Linked DNA regions of Homo sapiens: regions 1, 2, 3 and 5 are each linked to region 4. Evidence: fine-mapped expression QTL. A gene starts in region 4. Each other region holds a variant in brackets. All regions are shown on one strand. Distances are from middle to middle.

Region 1 (6,539 bases), 46 kb before region 4:
AGATCCAATGCAATTATCTCCACGACGATGCTTTCTCTTACTTTGGTGTCACCAACCTCTGCAGAATATATCATTCCCTGCTCAGAACCGCAACTACACATTTTGCACATATCGTTGTTTTTTTTTTTTTTTTTTTTTTTTTTTGAGACGGAGTCTTGGTCTATCACCCAAGCTGGAGTGCAGGGGCATGATCTCAGCTCACTGCAACCTCTGCCTCCCAGGTTCAAACGATTCTCCAGCCTCAGCCTCCCAGCAGCTGGGATTACAGGCACCTGCCACCATGCCTGGCTAATTTTTGTATTTTTAGTAGAGATGGGGTTTTGCCATGTTGGCCAGGCTGGTCTCGTACTCCTGACCTCAAGTGATCCACCTGCTTCGGCCTCCCAAAGTGCTGGGATTATAGTTGTGAGCCACCGTCCCCAGCCCGCATATCATTATTATTATATTTTACATATATATGTATAACAGAACATGCATACATGTGTGTGTTAGTATGTATATAGTTATATATATAGTTAATATGTATATATACATATACATATATAGTATGTATATGTGTGTGTGTGTGTGTGTATATATATATATACTATATGTCATGCCTTATGACTTTTTTCTTTACCTGACTATTCCTCCTAAACTGAGTTTCTTTAAGGATAGGAATACAGTTCTATATTGTTGGGAATAAATGTCTTCCACTTACTAAGCAATTAGTACATACTAAAATCATGAATAAATACAACTAATTAAATACATAAACTAATTTAAATCATAGTACAAACCTACATATAATACCCCATTGTATGAAGAACTGGAAACATGTTTAAAAAATAACAACAAAAGCCACAACACATTTTACCTGATGCCACAGGGATATTACAGCCTGCAGCCTTGAGTGCTTTTACAGCATCACACACCCGGGCGGGATAAACACAAACGGCGGCTGTAGTAATGCCTATCAAGAAAAAATAGGAATAGCCAACTTTCAATGAAGTTCAACTCATACAACATGCTTTTAATTATTATTTATATCGCAACACTGGCAAAAATCAAATGAGAAAAAAATAATTCCCCCACAATACTGCAATAAATTAAAAGATTTTTATTTTCCACATTCCCTTCTAGTTCTTGACAATATGGATTATTTTCTTATCGTTAAAGTCATAAAAACAAGTTTGATATACTCATCTTTGAGATTAACATAGTACTGTTTTTTAAAAATGTCTAAATAGTAAATTTGGTGATCATTACTAAATGCAAATATTTCATGTAGATAACAAAATCCATATTTACAGAGCATTCACATAGGACATACCTGAAGAAAGGACAGTTTGAAGAAGGACAGATGAAGACAAATATAAGTACAATTTAGAGGGTGGTACCACAAAAATGACATTTAACTAATCCTATTCCCTCTTTTGCAAGAAATAATAAAATCTGAAACGGAAGCCCTGATTTTAAGAAATAAGTTCATAAATTTTAAAAAATTTAGAATTCAAATAGTCACTATAAAACAAAGCAATATCATAAGACCTTACATCAAGTTGTTACCTTTAAGTGCAATAAATAAGGTGATATTTTTATGGCCAACACGAAATAAACATAATAAATACTTTTCAAAAGCCGTAGAGTTGTTTAGGTTTGTATGTTACCTACAAACCTAAACGTGTTTATTTGGGATAAAAGACCTGCATTGGGCCAATTCAACGTCTCCAGTTGCACTCACAGCAGATAGGCACTCGGGGGCCATGAAGCATACTCCATGGGAAGGAGACCTGGCTCCCAAAACCAGCCCAGCAAGTAACAAGACGTGTAGCCTTGGGAATGCCGCTTAGCCTTCCAGGTCTTTGTTTCTTTATTTAGAAAACAAGGGAATCAATTCTTACAGGTGTCCAACATCTCCAAAATGCTAAGGTTCTAAACTTATGGCAACTCTAGAAAAGTCCTTCTTTTCATGTATACTAAGGCAGTGAATATGACTTTTTTTGAAAGATCTAACCTAATATATAAGCAGGCTATATTTCTCATTTGCACTTTATTTTCAAAAGTATTTCATATACTCACAGAAAATACTTTATGTATGAGATGTGATTATTAAGTAATGAGACTGGCTTTTTCACGTATGGCTAGGGAATCAGAAAGAGTATTTCAGTGTCACTAAACAGAAATTTTCCAAAACTGAAGAACTGAAAAGAAATAAAGTCACTCTCTACCAAGCATTTTAATCCATTGATGGAAAGAACTGACCTCAAAAAAAAAAAAAAAAAAAGACTCAGATTCTCTTCCTGCTGTTTTTCAGAGAAGAATCTGTCTATGTATACACAGCAAGAGTTTCTATCATGGATTCTATCACCGCTATCATTAGCAGCTGTATCTTAAGTCGTCTTTGATTTAGTAATCAGTATTGTAAGCACTAAACACCACATAGATCACACACAACAACATTACCTTTATCATGCATATTTAAAGCTTTTAAGAGATCTTCCCGGATTGGGTATTTGGCTTTATAACAGAGCCTTTGAATGTTGGAAGATGTATCATCACCTGAAAGTGTAGTAAGATCTATAAAGGTAACAGCTTTCAGGAGCCAAGCAGCCTGGTTTAAACAAAAGTGAAAACAAAGTAAATTTAATAAATAAACAAACCAACCAACCTCCAACCCAGGTGGTTAGTAGAGAATCATTAGACAAGTATGGGTGTTAATATCTTATGCCTACACTGTTCAATGGAATATCCTGATACATGATATAAACACAGCTCAAGAGCCACTAACAAGGTGAACACTGCCCAAAATAAAAGGGAGGAAGAGTAGGCTTAAACATTTTTTTTCTCCCACAGATATCCCAAATTGAAACCCCTATTAGCCCATGTCTCCCCACTTCTGACTACTCCATCTCAGCCAAAGGGAGAGCCCATCAGAGCCACCCTGACAAAGAAGAACTCCGAAAGAAGGTTTCTACCTTACATTTTACCTCCCGCTCTGGGATCTGGGATGAGATTATCATTTTTAAAAGTTTCCAAGTTTTTTGGTGTTTTTTCAATTTAATCCAATTCCATTTTTAAAACAATATTCATATTTCACAACTCAGTCTGATGAATTTTATTTTACCTTTTCAACCAGAATATTTCTAAGGATGAGCAAAACGTGAACTATCACTCTCAAGGATTCAATCACAGTATTCTGTCTCACTTGTGAAATGAACTCTGAATTCCCTTTAATCCTACACAGCACGTCTTTGGTTGGGATACACTGAAGAAAATGCTGACCGCAAGTACTCTACGAAACATCATTTTTGGAATTTTGAAAAATGATTTATAGAAAGTAATAGTAAGGTAAATATGATGGTCAAGAAAGGTCAACTCTTATACCTAAGGGCCTCAACAGTGGACACATCAAGTTTAGATGTTAGGGCTTTAAAATTAAAACAGAAGACAACCAAAGAAGGCATGTCTAAAAAACTGAATAAATGTGTTGAGAAAATATGCCATTTAATTCACTCATGAATAAAGATGCCTCAAATTCATTTGCGGTTTTGCCACTCAAGAGTGATAAGATTTTAACTTGTTTGGATAAATGTGTTATCTTTCTCCAACCCATCATCATCATATATGAATTATTAAAATAAGTCATGGACAGCTGCAATCTTTTAAGTTTAGATGCATCTTGAGTGAAATTCAATATTGTGGCCTTGAGGGAAGAGACCATGCATTGTAAAATACAGGCACAGAATGCTCAAGAAGAACCCTTACCTGCCACTCCTTTTTCACGGTTCTGCGAGCCTGGATTTGTTCCGCACGCCTCAGAACTGCCGGGTGATTCACTTGTATTTTGGAGATCCAGCTAAGGTCTAAAACAGACAGAAAAACACTTTCTGAAACCTAAAGTTTCATTAAATATAGTCACCTATTTTTACATGGTCCTTGAAAGGATACATTTATCATTTGACATCAACCTTTTTTTAAAGCTTATATTTCTTTTTTGTACAACTATAAATAAACAACCTTATTGATGGAAGACCAGTCAACAAAAGGCATACTTCATGC[A/C]AAATCACTCCATTACTTTCAAAGGCAAAAACCACAATTGCTTCTGTACCAGCCTATACATTTGGAACTGGAAGAACCTGTATTGATTCATCACACAGACATGTCTAACGACGTGGGAAATGTGTGTTACCCATGCCACGTACCTCACCTCTGAGAGCAAAGACTTACTGGTGAGTGTCCAGCCCAGGAGAGCAAATGATTAACAAATCTTAAGTGAACTAATGGTGGGGCTTACAGAATCTGTGCTCACTACCCGCTTACTGGCAAGATTAATACCTACTGCATGCTGACAGGATACAGCCCATTCTTTCTTCAAAGAAAAATTTTTCAAAATGTATTAGAAATAACAACATTGACTGATATAACAGAAGTTAGAAAAAAAGAAAAAACAAATTATTTAAAGTTTCAGGAGCTATCTCTGTTGCTTTTGTTCTGAAATGCTCTCTCCTACCTTGATCTACTCTCTCTTCTCTTCCAGTTAACTGTAATTTCTACCTTCAGACCTAGTCTAAATATTAGCTGTTGTGAAAACACTGTCAGCTCCCCAGACAGAGCTAACATTTGGATAGATCTCTACCACAGAACTTGTAATCAATTCATCAAGGATTCCTGGTGAAACCATTCGTTGTACTTAGTACATTGTCAGCCATGATGTTACTCATCTTTGGGTGTCTAACATCCAACAGTGTTTGGTACACATATTTCAACTTCATCCACCAATATCCTATAAACATAGGTGGCCTCACGGTAAATCGGACATGAACATTATTTACCTTCTATAACTAACCTCACTTCTATATCTCTCCAGCAATTCCATGTTTTTAAAAGAGCCTTAAAAGAGTACTGTGGAAAAAAAGTTATCCATTAGAAAAAATGCACTAATTACAAAACTCTTTATAATGCAATGAGGAAAACTGCTAATCACATACTGTATCATGTAACAATACAAATTGAAGTATTTGCATCTAAACTAATGTTTACAGATGACATTCTTTCTCTCACTCATTTTCATTTCATTCTTCTTAAAAGTATCAGTATTAAAGGTATAGAGATTGCAAGGTGGACTCTGAGTGATTAATAATGATCTTATTTAAATTTCACTGAAGAAGGAAGAGAGTTTGGGTGCTTCTTTTTCTCTCTAATTATTTTGTTAGCTGAAATCATTTAACAAACCAGATTTTTAACATTTCAATCCATCTGCTCCTGCTCCTCAAAGATATTGTATGTTTTCTTGCTTGTTTGCTGAGCCAACTTCACAGAGAAAATGGGAGTCTGGGGTCAGGCCGATGAAATCTGCCTCTGCTTTCCCACTCAAGGGCTGTTTTTGTTCTAGCAGAGCCCGAGAAAATCAGACCAGACACTCTAGACTTCGTCCCAATTTATCTAAGACCTGTAAGAAACACCCCCTACTCAAACGCAGGGGAGCCTCTTTTTTTTTTTTTTCAGACACAGTCTCTCTGTCGCCCAGGCTGGAATGCAGTGGTACGATCTTGGCTCACTGCAACCTCCACCTCCCGGGTTCAAACGAACTCATGCCTCAGCCTCCCAAGGAGCCAGGGCTACAGGCGTGCGCCACCACGCCAGGCTAATTTTTGTATTTTTAATAGAGACAGGGTTTCACCATGTTGGCCAGGCTGGTATCGAACTCCCGACCTCAAGTGATCTACCTGCCTCGCCCTCCTAAAGTGCTGGGATTACAGGCATGAGCCACTGCACCCAGCCCTAAGAGGCTTTTTTTTTTTCTCCTCAGATGATTGATAATGCTGATTTGGTTCATGGTAAAGACTGTTTCAAGCAGATATAGAAAAATGAGTGAAGAGTATGTGAACTCCAAGACTCACTGCCAACTAATTGTTGACCGTGATCAAAAAGAGGTAGGCCTATTACTCAGTGGGGCAAGGCTTTGACAGGCTGTCCTTTATCGGTCACAGGACACCCCTGAAGTCCTTCCCATTCTCTACTCCCAACGCACCACTACCACTACTGTCGCCACTGGAAACACTGGCACCACTGTTGGAGAGGGGTCTCAGGCAAACACAAGCCTCTTCCTTCACCATCTGGCTCCTTCCTCATTCTCAAGCCCCAGCTCCTCCCTCACTGCTCCTCTGCCTCTGTGGTGCAGCCTTCCTAAACTACTGGCAGTTCCCTGACACATTATGCCAGGCTGTCTCTGGATCTGTGCATGCTGCAAGCTCCTTCTACCAAGAATGCCCTCCCTGCTTTGCGAACAGTGAACTGCTGCTCATCCTTTAAGAGTCGATTCAAATGTCACCTTCTCTGGGAGCCTTCCCTGAACCTCACAGGTTGAGACATCCCTTTGCTTCTTCGTGCTTCCATGAAACTCTGCATTCCACCTTTAGTACATCCCCTTCACTCAGAATGCCACTGATGTGTCCAAATGTTTATGTCCCCAAAAGATTTTTTAAAACTCCAAGCGAAGGACCTGACGCACGGGTGGCATACGATAAATAAGTCGAGTGGTTCCCAAAGACCAGAAA
Region 2 (6,539 bases), 44 kb after region 4:
CCAGCACTTTGGGAGGCCAAGGCAGGCGGATCACGAGGTCAGGAGATTGAGACCATCCTGGCTAACACGGTGAAACCCTGTCTCTACTAAAAATACAAAAAAAATTAGCCGGGCATGGTGGCAGGTGCCTGTAGTCCCAAGTTACTCAGGAGGCTGAGGCAGGAGAATGGCGTGAACCCAGGAGGCAGAGCATGCAGTGAGCCAAGATCATGCCGCTGCACTCCATCCTGGGTGACAGAGTGAGACTCCGTCTCAAAAAAAATAAAAAAAGAAAAAAGAAAGTGTGGACAGATCTACTGATTCTACAGAAATAAAGGTAATATACTGTGAACAATTGCACACTAATAAATTGAATAACCTAGATAAAATGAACACATTCCTAGAAACGTAAGACCTTCCTAGATTAAACCATGAAGAAATAGAAAATCTGAATAGACCTATAACTAGTAAGGAGGTTGAACCATTAATCAAATACCTTCCAACGACAACAAAAAAGCCCTGGGCCTGCTGACTTCACTGGTGAATTCTACCAAACATTTTATGAAGCACTAATCCCAATTCTTCTCAAAGTTTTCCAAAAAAATTGAAGAGAAGAAAGAATTCCTAACTCGTTCTGTGAGGCCAAAATCATCCTAATACCAAAGTAAGAGACACCAAAAGAAAATAAAACTATAGACCAATATTCCTTGTGGTCACTGATGGAAAAATTCTCAACAAAATACTAGCAAACCAAATCCAGTAGCTTATTAAAGAATTAAGCTCCATTTTAAATGGAATTTATTCCTGGCTTATAAGGATGGTTCAGTATACACACCATGAATAATGTAATACACTACATTAACAGAACAAAGGAAAATTACCACGTGATTATCTCAACTGATGCAAAAAGCATTTGACAAAACTCAAAACACTTTCATGATGAAAAAAAACTCAATAAACTAAGAATAGAAGGAAACTATCTCAATGCAATAAAAACCATATATGGAAAAAACCACAGTAAACATCATACTCAACTAAAATATAGACCAGTACAATAGAATACAGAGCCAGAAGCAAACTCTTGCATCTATAGTCCAATGATTTTTGACAAAGGGACCAAGAGAATTCAATGGGTGAAAGGACAGGCTCCTCAACAAATGAACCTGGGGAAGCTGGATAGCCACATGCTGGATATAACACCAGAGACACAGACAACAAAAGAAAAAAAAAAAAAACAGATAAATTGGGCTTCATGCAAATTTTAGAAATTTACGCATGAAAAAACATTATCAACGGAGTAAAAAGGCAACCCACAGAACAGGAGAAAATACTTGCAAATCATTTATATGATAAAAGATTGCTGTCCTGAATATACAGAGAACTCCTAAAAGAATATATATAGAACTCAACAAAAGAAACCAAACAACCAGATTTAAAAAACAGGCAAAAGTATTGAATAGATGTTTCTCCCAAGAAGATACAAAAATGACCAAGAATATGAGGGCCGAGTGCAGTGGCTCACACCTGTAATCCTAGCACTTTGTGAGGCCAAGGCAGGTGGATCATTTGAGACCAGGAATTCAAGACCAGCCTGGGCAACACAGTGAGAACTCATCTCTAAAAATGTAAAATTATTAGCCGGGCGTGGTGTAGTCCCAGCTACTCAGGCGGCTGAGGCATAAGGATTTTAAGTCCAGGAGTTGGAGGCCATAGTGAGCTCTGATCGTCCCAGTGCACTCCAGCCTGGTGACAGAGTGAGACTCAGTCTCAAAAAAAAAAAAGGAAAAAGAAAGGTGCTCAATGTTACTAATCATTTGGGAAATGCAAATCAAGTCAAAATTACAGTGAGATACCAGCTCATACTCATTTGATGACTACTATCAAAAAAACAAAAAATAACAAGTGTTTAACCCTTCGCCTATTTGTATGTTTAATCATTCATACATTGAAGGACATCTGGGTTGTTTCCAGTTTTTTGTTGTTGTTGTTGTTATGAATGGAACAGCTATGAACATTCAAATACAGGTTTCTGTGTGAACATAAATTTTCATTTCCCCTGATAAATGCCAAGAATGCAATGGCTATGTCATGTGGTACTTGTATGTTTTTTTAATTTTTATTTTTTTATTTTTTTAATTTTTTAATTGTTTATTTGTTCCATCGCCCAGACTGTAGTACAGTGGCCCAATCTTGGCTCACTGCAACCTCCGTTTCCTTGGTTCAAGTGATTCTTGTGTCTCAGCCTCCGGAGCAGCTGGGACTACAGGACCCTGCCACCATGCCTGGCTAATTTTTTGTATTTTTAGTAGAGACAGGATTTCACCATGTTGGTCAGGCTGGTCTTGAACTCCTGACCTCAAGCCATCCCAAAGTGCTGCGATTACAGGTTTGAGCCACCACACCCGGCCAGATGTTTGTTTTTTAAAAGAAACCACCAAACTTTTTCCAGAGTGGTTGCACCATTTTATATTCCCACCAGCAATGTATAAACAATCCACTTTCTCTGCATCCTCACCAGCATTTGGCGATGTCACTATTTTAGCCATTTTGATTGGTATACAGTGATATCTCACTGTGGTTTTTAATTGAATTTCCCTAATGGTTACTCATACTGAACATCTTTTTGTTTGCTTATTTGCCATTTGAATAACCTTTTGAGGGAAATCGCTGTTCATTCCTTTTGCTCTTTTCCTAATTATTTGGTTTTCTACTGTTGAATTTTGAGAGTTTGTCATATATTCTAGATACAAGTCCCTTGTCAGATATGTGATTTGCAAATATTTTCTCCTAGGATGTAGCTTGTCTTCTCTTCCTCTTAGCAGTGTTTCACAGAGAAAAAAGAAATTGATGAAATGCCATTTGTCCATTTTCCCTGCTATGAATTGTGCTTTTGGTGTCAGGTCTACGAACTCTACCTTACCCTGTATCATGTTTTTTTCCCTGACAGTGTTATGGTTTTTTGTTTTACATCTAAGGCCATGATTCATTTTGAGTTAACATATGTATAATGTGTGAGGTTTGTTCCATGTTCATTTTTTGCCTGTGGATGTCCAATTGCTGCAGCATCGTTTATTGAAAAAAACAATCCTCCTTTCATTAAATTGCTATTGTATCTTTAAAAAAAAGAATCAATTGGGGCTGGGCGCAATGGCTCATGCCTGTAATCCCAGCACTTTGGGAGGCCAGGGCGGGTGGATCACGAAGTCAGGAGATCGAGACCATCCTGGCTAACATGGTGAAACCCCGTCTCTACTAAAAATACAAAAAATTAGCCAGGCGTGGTGGCAGGCGCCTGTAGTCCCAGTTACTTGGGAGGCTGAGGCAGGAGAATCACTTGAACCAGGGAG[G/A]CAGAGGTTGCAGTGAGCCAGGATTGTGCCACTGCACTCCAGCCTGGGAGACAGAGCGAGACTCCATCTAAAAATTAAAATTAAAATTAAAAAAAATCAATTGGGCATATTTGTGTGGGTCTGTTTCTAAACTCTCTGTCTGGTTCCACTGATGTAAGTGTTTATCTCTCCACCAATATCACACTGTTTTGATTATTGTAGCTCTCTAGTATGTCATAATATCGGGTAGTGTGTACTCCTCCCGTTTATTCTTCTATAACATTTTGTAGATCAGTATTCTCAACAGGTATTATTCACATATTCAAAATAACTCCTTAATAATAGTAATAAAAACAAAACAAATATTTTGAAAATTATTAGTAGAGGAAGGACAAATCACTTTCATTATCTAAGCTACAAAAATAATATTATATAGTTGCATTTTAAATACTTGATCGTAACAATTATGTCTCTTTTCAAATTTTTTCCTGATTAATTTCTCACTGATAACAAAGACACCATTGGCATTTTATTTTTCATTGGCATATTAGGTGTATTCTGTGGGATTCCAAATACTAAGCAAAACTATGTAATAGCATTAATAATCCCTGTTGATAATAACTTAAAACGTTAAACATAGGCACGTAACAAAACTCAGGTTTACCCGCTCACAGCTCAAAAGCCAAACTTGAGAGATAAGAGTTGTTGGGAGAAAAAGCAGGTTTATTCAGGAGCCGACAACCTGAGGAGATGGTGGACTCATGTCACAAAGATCATCTCAAGTTTCTCAGGCTAGTTAGAGAGTTTTTATGGGAAGCAGGGATATGGACTATGCACAAGAGTTTACTATGTGAGGGGTAGTATGTCTGGTCTTGATGACTATCTTGAGCAGTGGGCCAGCTGGTGGTCTAGCTGGTGTCTGGTTGATTGCAACAAGAATATAGATGAACTACACACAGATGAAATACTTCCTGGGGTGAAACATTCCACAACCTTGATTTCATGCTTAGTTTTTCAAGGCCCGTTCCTGGAGTTCTTTAAGCAATGCATGTAAGTTAAGCGTTATTAAAAGCTCAGCATAGAAAGAAGTGAGGGGGAAGAAAAACAAAGAATAATAATTGTTTTTCTAAATGGGGTGGTAGTTTTAGTTACAGGCATTCATCTTCAAAAGAAATGAAACCAATTGGAAACCAATATAGGTTTAAGATTAAAAAATTAAAATTTTATTGAACAGTTTTTAAATTCTGAGTTTAAGACCTTTAAATTAAAAATGACGTATGCATTTTATTCCCCATGATTATTTGATTTTCTCAGTCCCTTAGGAATGGCTTAATTCATTTCTTTTTTTATTTTGGAGTATTACTTTCTCTCCTCTCCTCAAAAGCAGTGTTACTGCTTCCCAGATAAGAAAGAATACAATATCCACCAAACAATTACAACAGAAGTACAGAATCCATCTGGAGTATAATAACAAGACTAAAACAATATAGCAACTATCACTGTAAAAAGGACTTTGGGTGAAGGTCATCAATAGATGCCTAATCTAGAGGGATGATAAGTATGATAAGAGTAAATAATTACTATACAGGGGAGAAAATATACAACATCTTGACCAGGTGTTGGCAGAAAATTTTCCATGGATCCCCACTATTTCTGCAAATCTCATGAGCAGAAACATGCTGCATTTGGTTCTGGATTCCCTTTTAAATAATGTTTTTATTGCAAACAGCTTTAGAAGATAGACAGCTTCTCCCTCCATAGGAAAACAAAATAATGTTTATTGTTCATTATAAAACATTTGAGTTCCCTAAGCTCAAGGTCTTTCTTCTGTAATGCAACCCACTGCATATGTGGCTACTCATCAGAACCTATTTGTATTATCCCTGTGGAACTTGGGGACATTGAGAATAGATGTAAATATGCTGCTTCTCATGCTTCCAGCAGCACCATGAATAATAATATCCTTTGTGTCTGACTCAAGAAGTCAGACCAGCATCTTTCACCAGCATCAGTGAAATGTGGCAGGTTAGGTTTGTTAGCTTGCAAGTAGGGTAAAATCTCAGACCTTTCACAGTGCTTGACAACAGGATCAAAATTGACATCACCCATGAGGGATAGACTTTGCATGCTTCCAAATACTTTGAGAAGGATACAATATCACTTACAAAGTATCTGACCAGGGCTGCATAACTAAAATCTGATTACAAGGAATCATCAGGCAAACCAAAACTGAAAAACAGTTTCTTTCTTTCTTTTTTTTTTTTTTGAGACAGGGTCTTGCTTTGTTGCCCAGGCTGAAGTGTAGTGGTGCAATCACGGCTTACTACAACCTCTGTCTCCTGGGCTCGAGCGATCCTCCCATCTCAGCCTCCCAAGTAGCTGGAACTACAGATGTGCACCACCATGCCTGGCTAATTTTTGTATTTTTTGTAGAGACGGGGATTTTCACCATGTTGCCTAGGCTGGTCTTGAATTCCTGGCTCAAGCAATCTGTCCACTTTGGCCTCCCAAAGTGCTGTGATTACAGGCGTGAGCCACTGCGTCTGGCCTGAAAAACATTTTCTAAACTGACCAGTATTCTTCAAAAATGGCAATATCATGAAAGATTCTTTTAAAGTCTAGAAAACTGTTTCTGAATGAAGAAGAATACAAAGGCATGGCAATTAAATGAAATATATGATCCTAGACTAGATCCTGTGCTGGAGGGAAAAATGCTATACAGGACATTATTGGGACATTGACAAAATTAGAATATGGATTTTAGATTAAAGTATTGTATTAGTATTATGTTTCCTGAATTTGATAACTAGATTATAATCATGAGGAGAATGTTTTTGTACTTAAGAAAAATACATAGTATAAGGAGATATAAAAGCATGATGCATGAAGCCTAATCCAAAATGGTTCAGGAAAAATGAATTATGTTTTTATATGTGTATATATACATCTATACAAAGATAGGTGATAAATAATAAAGCAAATGTGAAAAATTTTAAAAATTGGAAAATGAATATGTGAATGTTCTTTGTTCTATTCTTGCAACTTTCCTATAATTTCAAATTATAGCAAAATAAGTTTTTTTAATACATGTGGAATCTATAGGATTGTATAAAACAGTCCTTTACTTCTTCCCTACTGTTGCTTATCAGTTCATTCAGATGCCGTTAAGTAAGCATCAGGAACTCTGTCCTCTTTTGTTTCCCTTTTTAGAGATGAGGTCTCGCTACATTGCCC
Region 3 (6,539 bases), 80 kb after region 4:
TGTGTTGCCAAGAGATTTTGTATCACTGTTTATATGAAAGTGCATAGCACACAGATGGGTACACAATTATTAGTTCAAATATTAGTTCAAGTCTAAACTGTTTAATTTTTTATTGTGTAAGTGGAAAAACATTCTGTTGAAAGGTATAACTAATCAGAGGTTATTTTATTAATAAATCAATTATAGACACAAGTGAGAGGATTACCCCTGAAATCTTAATGGAACTCAGAGGACTTTGAATCAATGTCTTCCTTAGACCAAAGGGGAAAATTGAGTTGCTTATTTTTCCAAGGCTTCTCAATCTTGATTCTGGTCTGGGTACACTGAAAAATTAATAATGAAAGATTTTTTAAAATTTCCTTATTATTGGTATTTATTATCTTCATAAAATGGCTATCTTTAGAATTAAACAAATGAATTAAAAACATGATGTGTAATGCAATTAAAATGCTGATGCTCTTTCCCAAATATTTTTTGGTAACTGTTTAATATATGATTTGACAAATATTCAGAAATTATTAGAAACATTTCTTAATGGAAATCCCGTTAATTTGATTTAATTAAATTTGAAAAGCGAACACCTAGCACAAACTTTTAACCACCAATAAATAGGATGCTATGTGATTTTACTTTTCTAGGTGCTGGGGATATAGCTGTCAGGAACTATAGACAGTCTGGGATTTTACTCTACTTTCAAGCTAATAGGCTAGCCTGTTACTGTATCATGGACACTGGGAAAAGGTATTAGACTCTTGAATCGGAGATAAAGGACTCTATTACTTATGATGTAACAGGCAGCATGATCTTCACATTTTCTTGTATCAATTTTCCACGACCCCCAAATTTCATGGGGATGACATAGGGGGGCCTGTACAGATGCCTACACACTCATTAGAGAGAGGAACACTGTGCTTAGAGAACTTTGAGTGCAGGGTAACAAGTCTGTTCTTTGTCTAGGAGAAGATACTACCTTATCCCTCCAAGGCTGTTGCTTGCTACAAACATAATCCTGAAGAAAGGCCCAGGTGAAGACCAGTGAGAGCCGTGAATTCTTGGTATATCCAGCAATACTGGACAGGGACTCTTAGGGCCTGTTAGCACGTTGCCTTTCCTAACAAAAGCCTTAGTTTCTTGCACTTAAAGAGCTTACATTTTGAAATTAGAAGGATTCTTCCTGATTAAAGGATTTCATCCTGGGCTGTTTTACTCCTTCTCAACTATGGCAGCGTGACCTCGAAGCTTGCATTGGCCTTTTCCCCAATTTTAGTTTTATACTCACTGTTTCTCCATCTTCCATTGCTATTTACATCTTCCTTGTTAAGTCTCATGCATTAGTCAGATTTTGCCTACATCCCAGGAGCTATATTGCCGTCACAAAGGCTGGACTGAGTTTCTCAAGACATTCCCAGGCAATTTCCTTAAATCCTGACCATCCTTTCTGCATAGTCAGTTACTCTTGCCCAAAGCAATTGCATAGAGCAAGTGCCCCATGTAGACCTGAAGACTCAGGCCAGTCACAGTTTTGTAGGCCATGATACAACCTGGGTCACCCTGAGCTAGGCTTCAAGATTCTGGGCATCTGTGTCTGCTGTGTCCAGCTAGATGTTACATGTGTGTGGCAGAAGAGGACTGTCTTCTTCATCTATTGTTGTAAAACAAAATGTGGAGTTTAATTGAAATCAGAACAGGGATACATTAAACAAACACAAAGTAGTTTTCTGATTATCAATTTTTGGACTCAAAGCATCTTCAAAACATTGGGGATCCAGCTTATCCCTGAGAGACATCATCAAGCATTACTAAAAGTTTTCACTCTTTGAACTATTCATTCACATTTTGTTGCAGAAAACAGGACAAAGTTCCAGACATATCCTTCCTTTCTTCTTTCTAAAATACACTCACAAACAGGGACTTTTCATAGTTCAAAAGAAAAACAAATAGCTTTCTTTCTTGACTAGTTGGCCTGTTACTCTCACCCTGGAATCTCATCTCTCAATAAGAGGGTCCAGGGCACCAAATTCAAGCAGAAATTCCAAGGACATCACTTTACTTGTCTTTCTATGAAGTTAAGTATGCGTTAGTCTTTCTATGAGGGAGACAATCTTCTGGGATTATTAACACCAGTCAATAGTCCCAGGAGGGTGGGGCAGGGAGTGGAAAGGAGGGTGAATGCAATAGTTAAGGTGTAAGGGAAAAGAATTTCTTGCTATCATCAGGTCTAGTTCTTTAAAGCATGATCGTGCATTGAAATTTTGCTATGAGTGGTGACCAATATTAGAAAGAAAAAGGTTCGTTTGTCTTACAGTTGCTTGACTCTGAAGATTCTGAGCTGCCCAAGCCTATGTCCGTGAAGGATTGTAAAGAGCCCTCAATTCACCTGTGCTCTCCCAAGAGAGAGCTAGCATGTTATGGGGTGGTGGCAACCCACCATTTTTAGCACCAACTGCTGAAAGATAGAAAATAAAAGAATTGAGGATTCTTAGAAGAGAGAAGACTTGAAGGTGACCATGTAAGGCTTATTCTATAGCCTCAAGTAAGATGATATAATATAGAAATTTTTTTAAAAAAATTTGCACCGTTCTCTGGATTCCAGCTGTGTTCATTCTGCAAAGCAGTGTGTCTAAATGTTTTTCCAGATATATTGGGCATGATAGCCAGTTTACCCAGTATGTCATAGTCCTGGTTATGATGAACATAGTTAAGAAGTAGAAGAGACGGAGAAAGATTGGAAGAAAATGGAAATGTGAGAGATTGTGGCTGTGCAGCAACAGTTAATTTATATGCATGGCTGTGTATATGAATGAGAATGTATATGATTCATGGTTTAAAGATGGTAGTGTAATACATGTACCTGTATGTATGTATGATGGAACTAACTAGCCCATTGTATATTAGCTCCAAGCTACTATTGTGGTTTTAAAAAGCTGAAACAGTCATTTCCTTGCCAGCTTCATTATGTCACATATAAATATATGTTCTGTGTGGGAAAGAAAAATATTGTATAGGCAAAGGAATTTCTATGAGAAAGATACAGAGTCTTTGAAAGAGACTTAAAATCTATGACTAAATGAGAGAAATAAATGACATTTCTACTACAACGCCCTTGTCAGGTTATATTAGAGAAAATTTATGTCACTGACAAGCCAAAGAAGGAGGCATTTGTATGCTACTGACAGTTGGTACAATATGTGTGTAGAAATGAACTTAAGTGTGGGAAACAAAAGAAACAAAAAACCTGGAAGAGAGCTGACTAGAAAGAGAACAAATAGGAAAAAGTGAAATACTTAGCTATATGAAACAATTTTTAAATAGTATTGTGTTAGATTCTCAAGGACGGATATGTGCTGACACAGTGTCTGGGATTTCAGACCAAGTACTCAGGTTCACATTGGATTAAACTTATCACCCCAGACTTGAGCCAAGAGCTCACCTTCGTCATGACCACTCAGCTATTAGCATCATGGAGTATAGCAGTGTAAATCGATCATACAGAAGTCCTTCTGGTTTTAGAATAAAATGGCAAAGTTGGAGAGAGCCCCCATGAAGATAATGCTCTAGTCAGACCTGCAAATATTGGCTGAATAGATGGTTTGGACAGAAAGTTTCAAGCAAAGAATCTGACTAAGTACTATTATGGGTTAACTAAATTGAGGAAATCTAAAAATTTCTCATAAAGATGCCCAGTTTCTTAAGAAATTGCCCTT[G/A]TTTTTGGACAATGAGCCACATCTTGTATTCATTCGAGGCCTCCATGTTGCTCCACTGGATGAAGCTGACTGCCCTGGCAATATGGCTGTGACTACACAGCTTGCAATGAAGTAGGCTTTGGACCACTGGTAGGAGAACTCCCTCCTAGAAACCAGAGAAATTCAAGAGGGGTTAGAGAACTATGAGTTATATTTGGCACCTACCAAAAAGTCATGCTGAAAACGTGGGATTCAGAGGCCAAGGAATGAGGGGGATTGAGAGTCCACACCGTCCAGTACTGGGGATTATTTTGCTAACATGTACTATACACAAGCAGGAATTTAACAAATACTTGGTTGATGAGCTCATTATGTATTTTTTATCCTCATGAATTGTGGAAGCTAAAACTGGATTTGGTGTATTAATGTCATTATCATTTTTGTATTACAACACTGAGCAAACAAGTAAGTAGTTTTTGTTGGTAAGACATCTTTTTTTAAAAAATGACAAGGATAAAAAGAAATATTAGAAATGACTCTGTCACTAAGGAGTTATACCTTGGGAGACAAGACATACTGGCAAAGAAATAATAATGCAAGTCATATTAGATCAGTTCCAAACACATTTGTTCCCCCACTCCTTCCGGAGACTTGAAAGGCAAAGCCTTACTCTTTTGAACTAGTTTCTCTTTTCTTTTATCCCTCTTCTATCGTCTCTCTACAATCCTCAATCTTCAGTGTTGAGTTGGAAAACTTAGATCATTTATAAGTTCTCATGATAATTTGGTTTGAGAAACACAGTGTAGGCAGCAATTGTGGGGGAGGAACAGTCCCAGGGGAGTGGTAGTTGCTGGGCCTTTTACAGAAAGAGCAGGACTCTGATAACTAGATATAAATGCGATGGGTATTTCAGGAAGGAGGAAGAGCCTGAACAGATCATGTCTCAGGAATGAATGAGACCTGTTTTGCTGCAGTGAGTAGTGAACTCTGGAAAAGAAAAACTGTGGCAGAGAGATGGGGCAGTGGGCAGGTGGTTAAAGGTCTCTAATAGGGCCTTATTTAATCCCTAAGCAGTGAAAAGTCAATGCATGCTTCTACATAAGAATTTAATTTATACCAAACAGGTTTTAAGAATAATTCTGGATTGATGTATAGAAGATGTGAGGAAGCAAGAAACAGACTGCAAAATGGTACTAACAAGAACTAGAAAGAAATGTAATAATCATCTTAGTCAACTTACTCAATTTCTGGTGTCTGGTGTGTATGTGTGTTTGTGTGTGTGTGCACACGTGTGTGTGTGTGTGTGTGTGTGTATTGGGGTGGAGAGCAAGGAAATTTAGCAGAGAGGTTGCCTAAGGTCATAAGCTAATTAACAGCAGAAATAGACTAGACCTGACTCACAGTTTAGGACAAGATCCCCTATATCAGGGGTCCCCAAGCCCTAGGCCACAGATTGGTACCGGTCTGTGGTCTGGTAGGAACTGGGCCACACAGCAGGAGGTGAGCAGTGAGTGAGTGAGTGAAGCTTCATTTGTTTTTACAGCTGCTCCCCATACCTCCCATTACCACCTGAGCTCCACCTCCTGTCAGATGAGCCCTAGCATTAGATTCCCATTGGAGTGCGAATTCTATTGTGAATTCTGCATGGGAGGGATCTAGGATCTAGGATGCAAGCTTCTTATGAGAATCGAATGCCTGATGATCTGTCACTGTCTCCCATCACCCCCAAATGGGACTGTCTAGTTGCAGGAAAACAAGTCCAGGGCTCCAACTGATTGTGCCTTATGGTGAGTTGTATAATTATGTCATTATATATTACAATGTATTAATAATATAAATAAAGCACACAATAAATGTAATGTGCTTAAATCATTGCAAAACTATCCCCCACCCCCTGGGTCTGTAAAAAAAATTGTCTTCAATGAAACCCATCCCTGGTGCCAAAAAGGTTGGAAACCACTGCCCTATATCATTGTTAGGAATCTATGGCAACATCCAGGAGCTAACAAATGAAGGCAGAAGTGGGGCCTGCCATTTTATCCAGATTGTAAAGCCATTTGAGAGGAAGTAGAACATAAGAATCAATTGGCCAGGCATGATGGCTTACGCCTGTAATCCCAGCACTTTGGGAGGCTGAAATGGGTAGGTGGCTTGAGCTCAGGAGTTCAAGACCAGCCCGGGCAACATGGAGAAACCCTGTCTCTACTAAAAAATCCAAAAAATTTAGGTGGGTGTGGTGGCTGGTGCCTGTGGTCCCAGCTACTCGGGAGGCTGAGGTGGGAGGATTGCTTGAATCCAGGAGGTCAAGGCTACAGTGAGCCAAGATGGCACCACTGCACTCCAGCCTGGGTGATAGAGCAAGACCCTGTCTCAAAAAAACAAACAAACAAAAAAAGAATCAATGAAGATATGATTAGTAATTGAATTGTGTATTCGTTTCCTATTGCTGCTCTCCTAAATTACCACAAACTAGATGGGTTAGAGCAGCATAAGTTTATTATCTTACCATCCTGAAAGGTCAGAGGCCTGAAATTGGTTCCACTGGGCTAAAATCAAGGTTTCAATGGGGCTGCCTTCCTGCCGGGGGCTGTAGGAGATCTGTTTTCTTGCCTTTTCCAGGTTCTAGAGGTTGCCTGCATTCCTTGACTCCTGAATCTCTATCACCTTCAGAGCCAGATATTTCCTGCTGAGTCTTTCTGAGGCTGCATCACCCTGACCCTGACTCTTCCATCTCCATCCTTCATGCTTAAAGGATCCTGGTGATTACATTGGACCCTCCCGTACAATCTAGGATACATTTTTAACCTTAAGGTCAGTTTATTAGCAACCATAATACCCCCTTGGATATAACATAGC
Region 4 (6,539 bases):
GCTCACTGCAACCTCCACTCTCTGGGTTCAAGCGATTCTCGTACCTCAGCTTCCCAAGTAGCTGGGACTACAGGCATGCGCCACTATGCCCAGCTAATTTTTGTATTTTTAGTAGAGATAGGGTTTTGCCATGTTGGCCAGGCTGGTCTCCAACTTCTGATCTCAAGTGATCCGGCTGCCTTGAGCCTCCCAAAGTGCCAGGACTATAGGCATGAGCCACCATGCCCAGCCTCAAGACATTTTTGAGGGCCTTCTGTGTACCAAACACTATTCTAGGTACTTGGGACACATCAGTGAACAAAAGAAAGATCACTACCCACGTGACACCTGCATTTTAGGCAATAGTTAAGTGGCATCTAATAAAATAGAAGAATATCTGTACATTTTAATAGACTATATAGGGCATAATAGTCTAGGTACAAAACTTGATAGTACCTTGGAGATCATTAAGCCATTGGTTCTCAAACTTGGGTATGCTTCAGTACTACCCACAGGATTTGTTAAAACTCAGAATGCTGGGCCCCATCCTCTAATATGAAAGCTAGAGGGTACATTCCCTATTTGGAAAACATCTTTCATACATCCAAATGCCAATGTTTTCCTTAAAGACTTTTTAATCATGAGGGTCAGGTTTAGTCTCAAAGGAACTCAATGTTTTTTTAAGTCCATGAACTAGAAGTACATACACCAAATCATAAATAACAGTGATTGGACTAGTAATAATATTACAACATTTTTGTGCTAACTGTATTTTCTAGAATTTTTACAATAACCATGAATTCCTTTTGTAATAAGAAAAGGGAAGCAAAAATGTTAATTTATTTTAGAAATTAGTTACGATGTTTATTAAAAAGACTTTCAATTAGAAAACTATTTTAAAAATCATCAGTTAATATACTGCATAAATTAATACTGAAAGATTTTTTTCCCTAGTACCTAATTCAAATAACTTATTTTAGCATTTCAGTTTAAACCTGTTTGGATTAAGGATTAATACCCGTGAAGGAAAAAAATCTGATTTTAACAAATAAGATAATAAATACAAAGCTATGATCATTTCGATAGCTGCATAAAAACCACATTTACTATTGTTCTACCTGGCAATTATTTATGTCTATTACTTTTCAACAAATGAATGGAAGTGATTGATTCTAATTACTGCAAATAAATAAATTTAAAAATGGTTCAATTATGTTTTTTGAAAGAAAAATTTAAAATGTCTAAGTTTTGGGAAATTTAGGGCACATCCTTGATGTATGCATAGTCACATGGTCATATTCCTGGGAATACCCAGGTAAGACACCACCCCAAACCTGCCCCATATCCACCACCTTCAAGGATATTCCAATCTAAGAAATAATGCCGTTATTACTAAAGACCACGTTCCAGAGATAGGACTAGAGTTTAAAACATAATCAGCTAGAGGACAGTGACTAAAACAAAATCAACCAGGTTAGTAAATCAACTGTCTTTAAAATGATAGATTTACTCTCTTACCATTCGACAAAAAATCCAGAACACCTCTTGGAAGTGCAGACTGTTTAAGTACCAGTCACTTTTAAGGAGGGCGAAAAGGACCTACCTGTATGTGTTACATATAATTTACAGCCAATTTTCTCAAAATTAGCCCCTAAAACCATAACTCCATATACTAATACTATCTATACTGAAGACTTACTAGGTGTCCACAATATACCAAACTACTTTACATGTATCCTATTTAATCTCCTAACGGCCTTATAAGGTAACTACCACTAAAATAACCATTTTACAGATGAAGAAACTTAAGCGCAAAGTTATTAATTTGTCCGAAGTCACACAGGTAAGAAGTTAAAGATCCTGGATACACAGATATCCAAGCTATAATACTTAAACGAGACGCTTAAACCTTCTCTTGATCATGGTTTTGCTGTTTGAATTATAAATTTTTCACATGTTAAGAAATCTGAAGAAAAATTCTCTTCTGCCTTGGGATCCTGTTGATCTGTGACCTTATCCCCAACCCTGTGCTCTCTGAAACATGTGCTGTGTCCACTCAGGGTTAAATGGATTAAGGGCGGTGCAAGATGTGCTTTGTTAAACAGATGCTTGAAGGCAGCATGCTCGTTAAGAGTCATCACCACTCCCTAATCTTAAGTACCCAGGGACACAAACACTGCGGAAGGCCGCAGGGTCCTCTGCCTAGGAAAACCAGAGACCTTTGTTCACTTGTTTATCAGCTGACCTTCCCTCCACTACTGTCCTATGACCCTGCCAAATCCCCCTCTGCGAGAAACACCCAAGAATGATCAATAAAAAAAAAAAAAAAAGAAATCTGAACTAAGGTTTCTTGCCAGTATTTGAACAATATAAAAAAAGATGAAAACTGGGAAATAATACAGGTACTTTAACAAATCTTTGTAACTCTAAAATCCCATGAATCTGCAGTGTTACATTTTGAGCACAGACGGCTGACAACTTTTCCACGAGCACGGCCACTTCAAGGTTACGGTTAAAATTATCTACGGAAATACTGCATTAAATTACACAAGTATTCTATTAAAAGGAGGAGAAAGAAGGTTTTTATCTGTTTTTACCTGCTTGGGGGTTGTTTGTTTTGGGTTTTGTTTTTTGGGTTGTTGGGTTTTCCAACCAGCGAGCTAGAGTGAACGAAAAGGCAGGAAGATAATAATCTAACCCTTTCCTACTCCTTCCGCATACAAGAGTAAAAGCTTAGGTGCAAAGACAAGCGGCGCGAACGTGCCGGGTTCGGCCTTTACTTGGGGTGAGGGCTGACCAGACGCCACTGCTTCCCGCCCCAGCGAAAACCCCTCGGGGACCCACAGCCAGGGCACTGGGCGGCAGCAGGCCCCGCGCTAGTCCCGGCGGCGCTGAACGCGAGGGAGAGGGGATGGGGAGCCCCGCGGGCCCCTTACCGAGCTCGGTGCCCCGATTGTGCGCGGACATGGCGCGGGCAGCTCCGGAGCTGCCGGCTGGTAGGCGCCCGCCTCTGCGCCGCGCCCGGCCCTTCCTCCTTCCCGCCAGCTGGAGCGCTCGCCCCGCCCCTGCCCGCTCCCGGGGCGGAGTCGCGGGCCCGGGCTACGAGGTCTGTACCCTAGGAATATTGCTCCGCAAGGAAATCTCGCTGCTCCCCTCCCCCGTCTTCTCCACGAGGTACCGAACCGGAGCGCTAAGTAGCTCCCGGAAATAATGCTACCAACACCCTTTAAAAAATACTGAAGTTGCCAATTGCACGTAATAAAAATATTCCTAGAAACTTTTAACTGTAAGATTATATAACAAGAAGGAAGAAGATCCAAGTGCAGAGCTCTGCAACTTAAGGTCTGAAATGTCAGCAGGGATCCCATATCCTTGTTAGGGAAACCAAGGTGCAATCAAGGGCCCCGGGGCACACTGACTTTTCTAATCTACACATCATGAAAAGAAGCAGCTATGTGGCCTGAAGAAGGCAAGGGCTTAGGAGTCAGAAGACCTGGTTTCTTAGCCAAGCTCGGGCAATAATTAAATGTGTGACCCTGGGCAAATTAACTGCTTTTCCGAGCTTCATTTTTCTCATCTGTAAAAGAAGACCTTGACAATTTCTTGGTTCTTCAAAATACTATGATTCTATAAAGGTAAAATGCTTCAGCCTGATTTCTCTGTGACCAAGAGGTTAAAATCGTCGAGTCACTCCACAATCTCAATATAGTTAACTTATCTGTACTCACGTTTAGAGGCACCTCTGCTATGAAAACAGTACAGTTAGTTATGATTTGTCTACCATGAGCCAGTTATTGTGCTAGGTGCTTTCATACATCATATATAGATGTATGATAGCATTTGAGTCTCTGAACAATCCTGCCAATAATGTATTTTATCTCCATTGCTGTAACTTTAGACATCAAAGTTCTGAATAGAAAGGCATCCTGGTATAGGGGAAATACAGTGAGCTCAAAATGAGCTGAACCCATTAATATACCAGCTCTTCCATTTAATAAATGTAACTTGGCAGTTCTGGAAATAATAGTCTGTCTACTTACCTGTAAAGTGGAGATGATCAAAATATGTTCACCTTGCAAAGCTGTTGAATGTATGCAAGGCACCTAGTACATAACATGGCATACAGTAGATACTTAAAAAATGGAAGCTGTTAATGTTATTGTCAAGTTCACACAGTAATTACTGAGCTGTTTTAAATAGGAATAGTAATATTTGTATACTCCTCTACATTGAGCTTTCAGCCTTGTCCACACACAGCCACTGTTGAATGTTTCGGATGTGTGTAGATCTTACTCATACATACTATAGCACTTTTCTTTTTTATATTAACCTTGAAAAAGAGAAAAGCAGGCCCTGAAAGCCTGGAGCTGGCCTGAAACTCACAACTGGACCATGGTTTTCCCTGGTTAAACGTATACAATTTCACAGCACAGCATCAGCCAAGGCCATTGTGACCACAATGAATCAACAAAAACATAATCATAATCATGTCTGATAATAGAAAACCATGAATATTGTTCAAATAGCCCCTATCCTAGCTATTATGACTTCTTTACCAATCAGTTCTAGCTTCACTCCATTCCTATGTTTTAGATAAGAATTAAGATGCACTACTATCACCAGTTCCTACCATCATCCAGTCCAGATCCTTCCTTGAACTTTCCCCAAATCACCTACGACAGGCCCAAATCCTATGTAGTTTCTAACATCCTCTTACTGAGACACCTCACATTAGGTGCCCATGGCAAGCATTCTCCCTTGTTACAATGTCAATAAACACAACTTTGTCCACTTGTAGGTGTGTTACTGGTGGTCTCTGGCTGGAGATCATTCACATCTCTAGAAGATACAAAGGCAATACATGAAATTCTATTTTTAGAAGTAAACACAACTCCAAACCAGATTCCATACCATTCATTACATAAATGTTTGTTTGTTTGTTTTTAAATTGTGATATCCTAAATTAGTTGAAAAATCAGAATTAGGGCAGCCTCTTAAAGCAATGTTTTAGCAATGTATCAGTCAAGAATTTCTCAAGGACTTTTTCTAAAATGGACCTGTTGAATGTATTAATCTCAAATTAATCTCTGCAGTTTAAAAGTATGTTAATTTGGCAACATTAGGAGAGACAGCAGGGATAGTATGCAAAAAATGAGTTTCTTTCACAGAGAAATGTTCCTATATTTCATTTTGTGAAGATTCCTTTTACATTTATTGCCTTATGAAACTTCTGAAGTATCCCTAAGGCAAGTCCCCTCAAAGAAAGAGCTATAGACCACTACATGGGAATCACCCAAGAGCTTTTTCTAAAGCAGTTCTGGGCTTCCTCACAGCCCTACTCAATCAGAGTATCTAGGACCCTGGAATCTGTAATTTTAATATTTCTTCAAACAATGTTTATGCAAACTAAACGTAAAGAACCACCAATGAGAAGCAGAGGAAAATAAACTATGCATGCCAATCTGGAGCCATAGCCCAAACTGACTCTTACAAGAGTAAAATTGCTTTTAAAGTATTACATGTTGTATTTTTTAAGCCATGTAAATTTTGCATGCTATTCCTATTCATTGATGTTTTTCAATGTAAATTTTAAACTGCCAAATAAATTACCTAATTATCCTCCCACCCTCACTCCTCCTTTAATTAAAATTAAAGCTCTAGGAATATGTAATATTTATCTTGAAGCTTCTAAGAACCTACCAGTCCTGGGAGATAGGAGTAAAACAAATTTTAAGGTCCAAAGGGCATAGATCATTTGTGTTTGGTTCATCATATGTAGGATCTAGTACAGTAGTTGGCAATTAGTAGACTATAAATATTTGTTAGATGAATGAGTGTATATTGCTGTCTTTGCTACTTTTCTTATACTGCCTACTGTTTTATCCAGTCAAATTTCATTTGATATAGTCTCTACTCCTATGATTTCTAAGAGCAATTATTCACAAGTTCATTAGGTAAATAACCACTTAGACTACAAACTGTCAGCCAGCATTTCTAGGTCAGATGGAGAAAAGTGTAGGAGCAGGGAGGACTATGAAAAATTGTGAATATTAGAGTCAAAATATTTTAGAACTGGAGGGAGACTAATAGAACATCCAATTCCTAGTTCATGGTAAAATAAAAAAAAAATAAGAATTATACTGAGTGTTTTATGAAGCTAAATTTATTCAATTTAAAGAACACTCCTTCATTCTGAGACTACGTTGTTCACTACCAATTTGAATTTTAAAATGTCGTTTTATAAAGATCGTGGCGTTAGATAATTATTTTTTCTTTTTTAATAGCCTCAGTTGGCTAGAAGCCGACCATTCCATCTCCTCTCCCCCATTTTGAAGTCTATTGGCCACAGAATCCTAAAGCTTGGGAATCACTGATACAATATATAATACTCGCTAATATTAAGTGCTTCCTGTGAATTAAGTCCTTTCCATAAAGTATTTGGTATTTCATATTTATGAGATTTTTCCTGAAAAAAATCTGTGAGAACTCTTTTCTCCCTGTACAGATAAACTGAGGCTAAGAGAGATTTGCCTGTAAGTGCTAGACGATTGCTTAAAACC
Region 5 (6,539 bases), 40 kb before region 4:
AGTATCAGCCTTGACTGCTAAAAATATCATTAGCGGTCATAAAATTATCCAGCCCCATATTTAATGTAGCCACAAAATTTGCCTCTGTGACCTCCCATGGCAATGAATTATGTAAGTGACTATCTCGTTTTATTAGCACTTAATTTGCTACTCTTTAATTTCATCAAATAACCCATGTTCTCCTATTATGGGGTCTGGGGAAAAGAAAGGACTGATTGGCCTTTGTTATGTCCTCCATAATTTTTAATATTTTATTCAAGTACCCTTTAGCGTCTCCTTTCCAGGAGAAGTGATTCTAATGCACATAATCTCATCAGGACCAAAGAATCTTCTTATGGGGCCAAGAGGGGTTTTAAGTACACATGCCTTTGGGGAGAACAGATATGAAACCATAATTGGAAGGCAATGATATCTTCTCTTAAAATTCTCCAATGAAAAAAGTCCCACTATTTACCTTAATATGTCATTTTGGTGGTTTTTAGGCCCTTGTGTTGGTTATAAATTTGTCCTCAAATACTCTTCTCACAATTTATTATTATTATTATTTCTGGTTCAAGTCGTAGTGGAGATGGAGGTCATTTTCCCTGCAACTTTACTTTCTAGACTTTCCATCATTTTCATTTGTGTTTCTGCAGAAGTTCCTGTATTTTTCACAGTATTCCTAAAGCATGTAACACCAAATGATAACCCTACAAAAGGAGGCGCTTTTTCTATTTTGATTTTAACTTTGTTCCTCATACACAAAAATAAAAACTTACCACACTGGCTGGATAAAAAGTCAAGTTCAGAGGAAGGGTAGGTCACAGTAGGCTTATCCAGTTGGCTAAAACAACCCTAATGGATAAGTGGAGATTTCTGATTCACCGTAAAGCATTGTTTCTCAGTCTAGAGACATTTTTGGTCACCACAGATGGGGTAGGGGGATTCTAGAGGAGAAGGTGCCACTTGTATCTAGTGGGTAGAGGCCAAGGATACTGCTCAGTATCCTACAAGGCACCCACAACTTAGAATTATGTGGTCCCAAACTTCAACAGTGCCAAAGCTGAGAAACCCTGCCCAAAAAACTGGGCAGGATGCAGGAAAAATAAACCGGAAGCACTGCAAGTTTGTGGGGCTGTCAGAAGCAAAAGCAGGTTGGCTAAATGTGACTGAATGTGGCTTGTTTGACTGACTATGGCTTACTTGTAAAGTGCTGTAAGCACCAGGCTGAGTGTAGACATGCGCTGTCCAATCAGGAGCCACACACTTGTGCCTACCTGAGCCCTTGAAATGTGGATAGTCCAAATCGAAATGTGCTTTAAGTGTAAAATACATAGATTTCAAAGATTCAGTACAAAAAGAAGGGTGTAAAATATCTAATTACGTTTTAACATTGATTTCACAATGAAATTATAATATTTGGGGTACACTTGGCTAAGTAAAATGCTATTAAAATATTTTCACCTGTTCCTTTTTATTTTTTTTATAATGTGTACACTTGAAAATTTAAAATGACTCCATGTCTCACATTATGTTTCTATTGGCTCTAGGCTCTAGTCTAGACTTTATGATACAGGTGACCAGAAGTCAGAGAAGATCTCCAAACAGGGCTGTAACAGAATTAAAGGAGTATTTTAAAAAAGTAATCAGTACACAGAATATGTCCCATGGAAATACGTACATAAGTTTGCAAATGCAAACATGAAAACGTATGTGTGGCAGCACTGTTGGAAATGACACCAAGATCCATGTCCAGTTCAATAATATATAGCAAATCCAAAAAACAGAATACAATTCAGCCATTAAAAAGAATGAAGTACAGGCCAGGTGCAGTGGCTCACGCCTGTAATCCCAGCACTTTGGGAGGCCGAGGCAGGCGGATCACGAGGTCAGGAGTTCGAGACCAGCCTGGTCAATATGGTGAAACCCTGTCTCCACTAAAAGCACAAAAATTAGCTGGGCATGGTGGTGCAAGCCTGTAGTCTCAGTAGTCAGGGGACTGAGGCAGAAGAATCGCTTGAACCTGGGAGGCGGAGGTTGCAGTGAGCTGAGATTGCGCCACTGTACTCTAGCCTGGGCAACAGAGCAAGACTCCGTCTCAAAAAAAAGAAAAAAAAAAAGAACGAGGTACATCAGTAAGTACTGTTGTAGAAAACTGATTATGATACATTACTCAGTAAAAATAAGAAATATGCACAGCAGTGTGCTTTTTAAAATAAAACTGTTAATAAAAACAAAAAGAACACAAAACATGTATCTGTTGGTGTATGTGCAAAGAAAATAAACTATATGCCAAATTGATAGAAGTGTTTTTCTTCAGAGGTAAGATTATATTCCTACTTTCTCACGTTATATATTCCCCTAATATTTAAACATTCTTACAAAGAGCATGCATTATCTTATTGAGCAGGAAATATAACACATAATAATACTTGACTCTTGAATTAAGAGGAACTGCCAGGCAGCAGTGTGAAGGACAGGTAGAATGAAAGGCAGACTACAGTAGGTAAACCAGTAAGGCAGCTGTCTGTGGTCCAGGCACCAGCATTATACAACACCTACCTGGGGCATTTTCACAGCTCTAAACCCTTCGTGATCAATCTTTGGCCACTGAGCTATTCCAGAAAGCCAGCCTGATACAGCTACACAATGTCAGGCAGAA[A/C]TGATGATGTCAGAATGCCCTGTTTCTGTTCCCATAGAAAAGATCACCAAAATCTTCACCACAGGCCCCCAGGTAGAAACTGATAATTATATTGCTCCTACATGATGCCAACATTACAAAGGGATGAGATGGGCCCACACTCTACTTAGAGCCTGCTCTGGCCCACCCATAGCTGTGCTCCTACCCATGGGCAGGGGTCTGTGGGGCCAAGGGCACAGACTGTCCCTGGGCCAACATTCCCCTCTAGTCCATGCTCAAGGTACACAGGACCCAGAATTCCTAGATCAAATGGCTCCAGCCTTGTTTACAGAATCTGCAGGGATCTCTACCCAAAGTCAAGACTTACACAAGATACAAGACAGACAAGGGACAGAAAACCTCCTGGAGAGTTTGATAAATGCAAGTCTGTCTATGAATACCATTCATTCATTCAACTAATATCAAAGGGCTATCCAAAATGGTGCCAGACACCACTGGAGGCTCTAGAGAGTGAGCAGTGCTGAAAAAACAAAATCCTTATTCTCATAGGCCTTTCCTAATAAGAGATAAACACATAAATATCTATTAACTATATTATACATCTGAGCTACAATGAAAAGTTATATAGGGTAAGAAAATGGAGAATGTAGGATGGGCATGAGCCAGGAAAATCTGATAATAAAACATTTGAGCAGGACCCCACGTGAAATAAGCAATGAGGCCATCATATAGGGAAACAGTGTTCTAGGCAGAAATGTCAGAGGCATTTGAACCAGAGCAATTCCATCTTGCACAGGGGCTGGGTAAAATGAGGCTGAAACTTACTGGGCTGCATTCCCAGATGGTTAAGGCATTCTAAGTCACAGGATGAGACTGGAGGTCAACACAAAATACAGGTCATAAAGACCTTGCTGATAAAACAGGTTGCAGTAAAGAAGCCAGCTAAAACCCACCAAAACCAAAATGGCTATGAGAGTGACCTCTGGTCCTCCTCACTGCCACACTCCCACAAGTGCCATGACAGTTTACAAATGCCATGGCAACATCAGGAAGTTACCCTATATGGTCTAAAAAGGGGAGGCACAAATAATCCACCCTTTGTTTAGCATATAATCAGGAAATAACCATTAAAAATAGGCAACCAGAAGCCCTCAGGGCTGCTCTGTCTATGGAGCAACCATTCTTTTATTCCCTTACTTTTTTAATAAACTTGCTTTCACTTTACTCTGGACTCGCCCTAAATTCTTTCTTGTGCAAGATCCAAGAACCCTCTCTTGGGGTCTGTATCAGGACCCCTTTCTGGTAACAGAAAGAGGAGAAGGCAAGAGTGAACAGTCATATCTAAGGCAAAGCAGGGACACAGTGTAATCAGGGGAAAGTAGGCAAGGCCAGGTACGGGAAATGGAAGAGAGGGTGACAAGGCCCAGATCATATAGTAACATATTTTCCAAAATGAGGGTAATAACTCACAGATAAGTCATGAAATCAGTTTTGTCAGTGGCAACCGGCATTTTTAAAAAAGAAGAAACAGGTAGGTGGTTCCAAGATGGTAGAATAGGAACAGCTCCAGTCTACAGCTCCCAGCATGAGCAACGCAGAAGACGGGTGATTTCTGCATTTCCAACTGAGGTACCGGGTTCATCTCACTGGGGCTTGTCGGACAGTGGGTGCAGGACAGTGGGTGCAGCCCACTGAGCGTGAGCCGAAGCAGGGCGAGGCATCACCTCACCCAGGAAGCACAAGGGGTCAGGGAATTCCCCTCCCTAGCCAAGGGAAGCTGTGACAGATGGCACCTGGAAAATCGGGTCACTCCCACCCTAACACTGTGCTTTTCGAATCGTCTTAGCAAACGGCACACCAGGAGATTATATCCCACGCCCGGCTCAGAGGGTCCCACGCCCACGGAGCCTTGCTCATTGCTAGCACAGCAGTCTGAGATCAAACTACAAGGTGGCAGTGAGGCTGGGGGAGGGGTGCCTGCCATTGCTGAGGCCTGAATAGGTAAACAGAGCTGCTGGGAAGCTCGAACTGGGTGTAGCCCACCACCGCTCCAGGAGGCCTGCCTGCCTCTGTAGACTCCACTTCCAGGGGCAGGGCATAGCCAAACAAAAGGCAGCAGAAACCTCTGCAGACTTAAACGTCCCTATCTGACAGCTTTGAAGAGAGTAGTGGTTCTCCCAGCATGGAGTTTGAGATCTGAGAATGGACAGACTGCCTCCTCAAGTGGGTCTCTGACCCCTGAGTAGCCTAACTGGGAGGCACCCCCCAGTAGGAGCAGACTGACACCCCACACGGCCGGTTACCCCTCTGAGACGAAGCTCCCAGAGGAACGATCAGACAGCAACATTTGCTGTTCAGCAATATTCGCCGTTCTGCAGCCTCTGCTGCTGACACCAAGGCAAACAGGGTCTGGAGTGGACCTCCAGCAAACTCCAACAGACCTGCAGCTGAGGGTCCTGACTGTTAGAAGGAAAACTAACAAACAGAAAGGACATCCACACCAAAACCCCATCTGTACGTCACCATCATCAAAGACCAAAGGTAGATGAAACCACAAAGATGGGGGAAAAACAGAGCAGAAAAGCTGAAAATTCTAAAAATCAGAGTGCCTCTCCCCGTCCAAAGGAACGCAGCTTCTCGCCAGCAACAGAACAAAGCTGGACAGAGAATGACTTTGACGAGTTGAGAGAAGATAGCTTCAGATGATCAAACTACTCCGAGCTAAAAGAGGAAGTTCGACCAGTCGCAAAGAAGATAAAAACCTTCAAAAAAAAGATTAGACGAATTGCTAACTAGAATAACCAGTGTAGAGAAGTCCTTAAATGACCTGATGGAGCTGAAAACCATGGCACGAGAGCTACATGATGAATACACAAGCTTCAGTAGCTGATTCGATCAACTGGAAGAAAGGGTATCAATGATTCAAGATCAAATGTATGAAATGAAGTGAGAAGTTTAGAGAAAAAAGAGTAAAAAGAAACAAACAAAGCCTCCAAGAAATATGGGACTATGTGAAAAGACCAAATCTACACCTGATTGGTGTACCTGAAAGTGATGGGGAGAATGGAACCAAGTTGGAAAACACTCTGCAGGATATTATCCAGGAGAACTTCCCCAACCTAGCAAGGCAGGCCAACATTCAAATTCAGGAAATACAGAGAACGCCACAAAGATACTCCTCGAGAAGAGCAACTCCAAGACACCTAACTGTCAGATTCACCAAAGTTGAAATGAAGGAAAAAATGTTAAAGGCAGCCAGAGAGAAAGGTTGGGTTACCCATAAAGGGAAGCCCATCAGACAAACAGTTGATCTCTCAGCAGAAACTCTACAAGCCTGAAGAGAATGGGGGCCAATATTCAACATTCTTAAAGAAAAGAATTTTCAACCCAGAATTTCATAACCAGCCAAACTAAGCTTCCAGTGAAGGAGAAATAAAATTCTTGACAAGCAAATGCTGAGAGATTTTCTCACCACCAGGCCTGCCCTAAAAGAGCTCCTGAAGGAAGCACTAAATGTGGAAAGGAACAACCGGTACCAGCCACTGAAAAAACATGCCAAATTGTAAAGACCGTCAATGCTAGGAAGAAACTGCATCAACTAACAAGCAAAATAACCAGCTAACATCATAATGACGGGATCAAATTCACACAGAACAATATTAACCTTAAATGTAAATGGGCTAAATGGTCCAATTAAAAGACACAGACTGGCAAATTGGATAAAGAGTCAAGACCCATCAATGTGCTGTATTCAGGAGACCCATCTCACATGCAGAGACACACATAGGATGAAAATAAAGGGATGGAGGAAGATCTACCAAGCAAATGGAAAACAATAAAAAGGCAGGGGTTGCAATCCTATTCGCTGACAAAACAGACCTTAAACCAACAAATATGAAAAGAGACAAAGAAGGCCATT

What was found. PIP is the estimated chance that this variant, and not a neighbour inherited with it, causes the effect.
Region 1: its variant is fine-mapped to the expression of DERA in sun-exposed skin (GTEx, PIP above 0.99). The same link has a PIP of 0.9 or more in esophagus mucosa.
Region 2: its variant is fine-mapped to the expression of DERA in breast (GTEx, PIP 0.98).
Region 3: its variant is fine-mapped to the expression of DERA in whole blood (TOPMed, PIP above 0.99).
Region 5: its variant is fine-mapped to the expression of DERA in testis (GTEx, PIP 0.97).

Annotation. Positions count from the first base shown.
Region 1 is chr12:15,954,242-15,960,780 of GRCh38, reverse strand. DERA (deoxyribose-phosphate aldolase) reads right to left here. Exons shown (of 9, transcript NM_015954.4): 2 at 3,748-3,845; 3 at 2,446-2,593; 4 at 857-952. Among named protein-coding and RNA genes, the nearest start is that of DERA, 46 kb to the right of the region's middle. The variant A/C (reference allele first, on the strand shown) is at 4,042.
Region 2 is chr12:15,864,280-15,870,818 of GRCh38, reverse strand. The region is part of intron 2 of LOC102724146 (a long non-coding RNA gene); the gene reads left to right. Among named protein-coding and RNA genes, the nearest start is that of STRAP, 15 kb to the left of the region's middle. The variant G/A (reference allele first, on the strand shown) is at 3,327.
Region 3 is chr12:15,828,136-15,834,674 of GRCh38, reverse strand. It overlaps LOC102724146 (a long non-coding RNA gene), which reads left to right. Exons shown (of 6, transcript XR_007063230.1): 5 at 6,303-6,494. Among named protein-coding and RNA genes, the nearest start is that of EPS8, 42 kb to the right of the region's middle. The variant G/A (reference allele first, on the strand shown) is at 3,705.
Region 4 is chr12:15,907,791-15,914,329 of GRCh38, reverse strand. It overlaps DERA (deoxyribose-phosphate aldolase), which reads right to left and starts at 2,998. Exons shown (of 9, transcript NM_015954.4): 1 at 2,916-2,998. The coding sequence starts at 2,946. RefSeq lists enhancers at 1,820-2,563, 2,564-3,308 and silencers at 2,711-3,060, 3,081-3,140.
Region 5 is chr12:15,947,460-15,953,998 of GRCh38, reverse strand. All of the region lies in intron 1 of DERA (deoxyribose-phosphate aldolase), which reads right to left. Among named protein-coding and RNA genes, the nearest start is that of DERA, 39 kb to the right of the region's middle. RefSeq lists a silencer at 5,217-5,417. The variant A/C (reference allele first, on the strand shown) is at 2,642.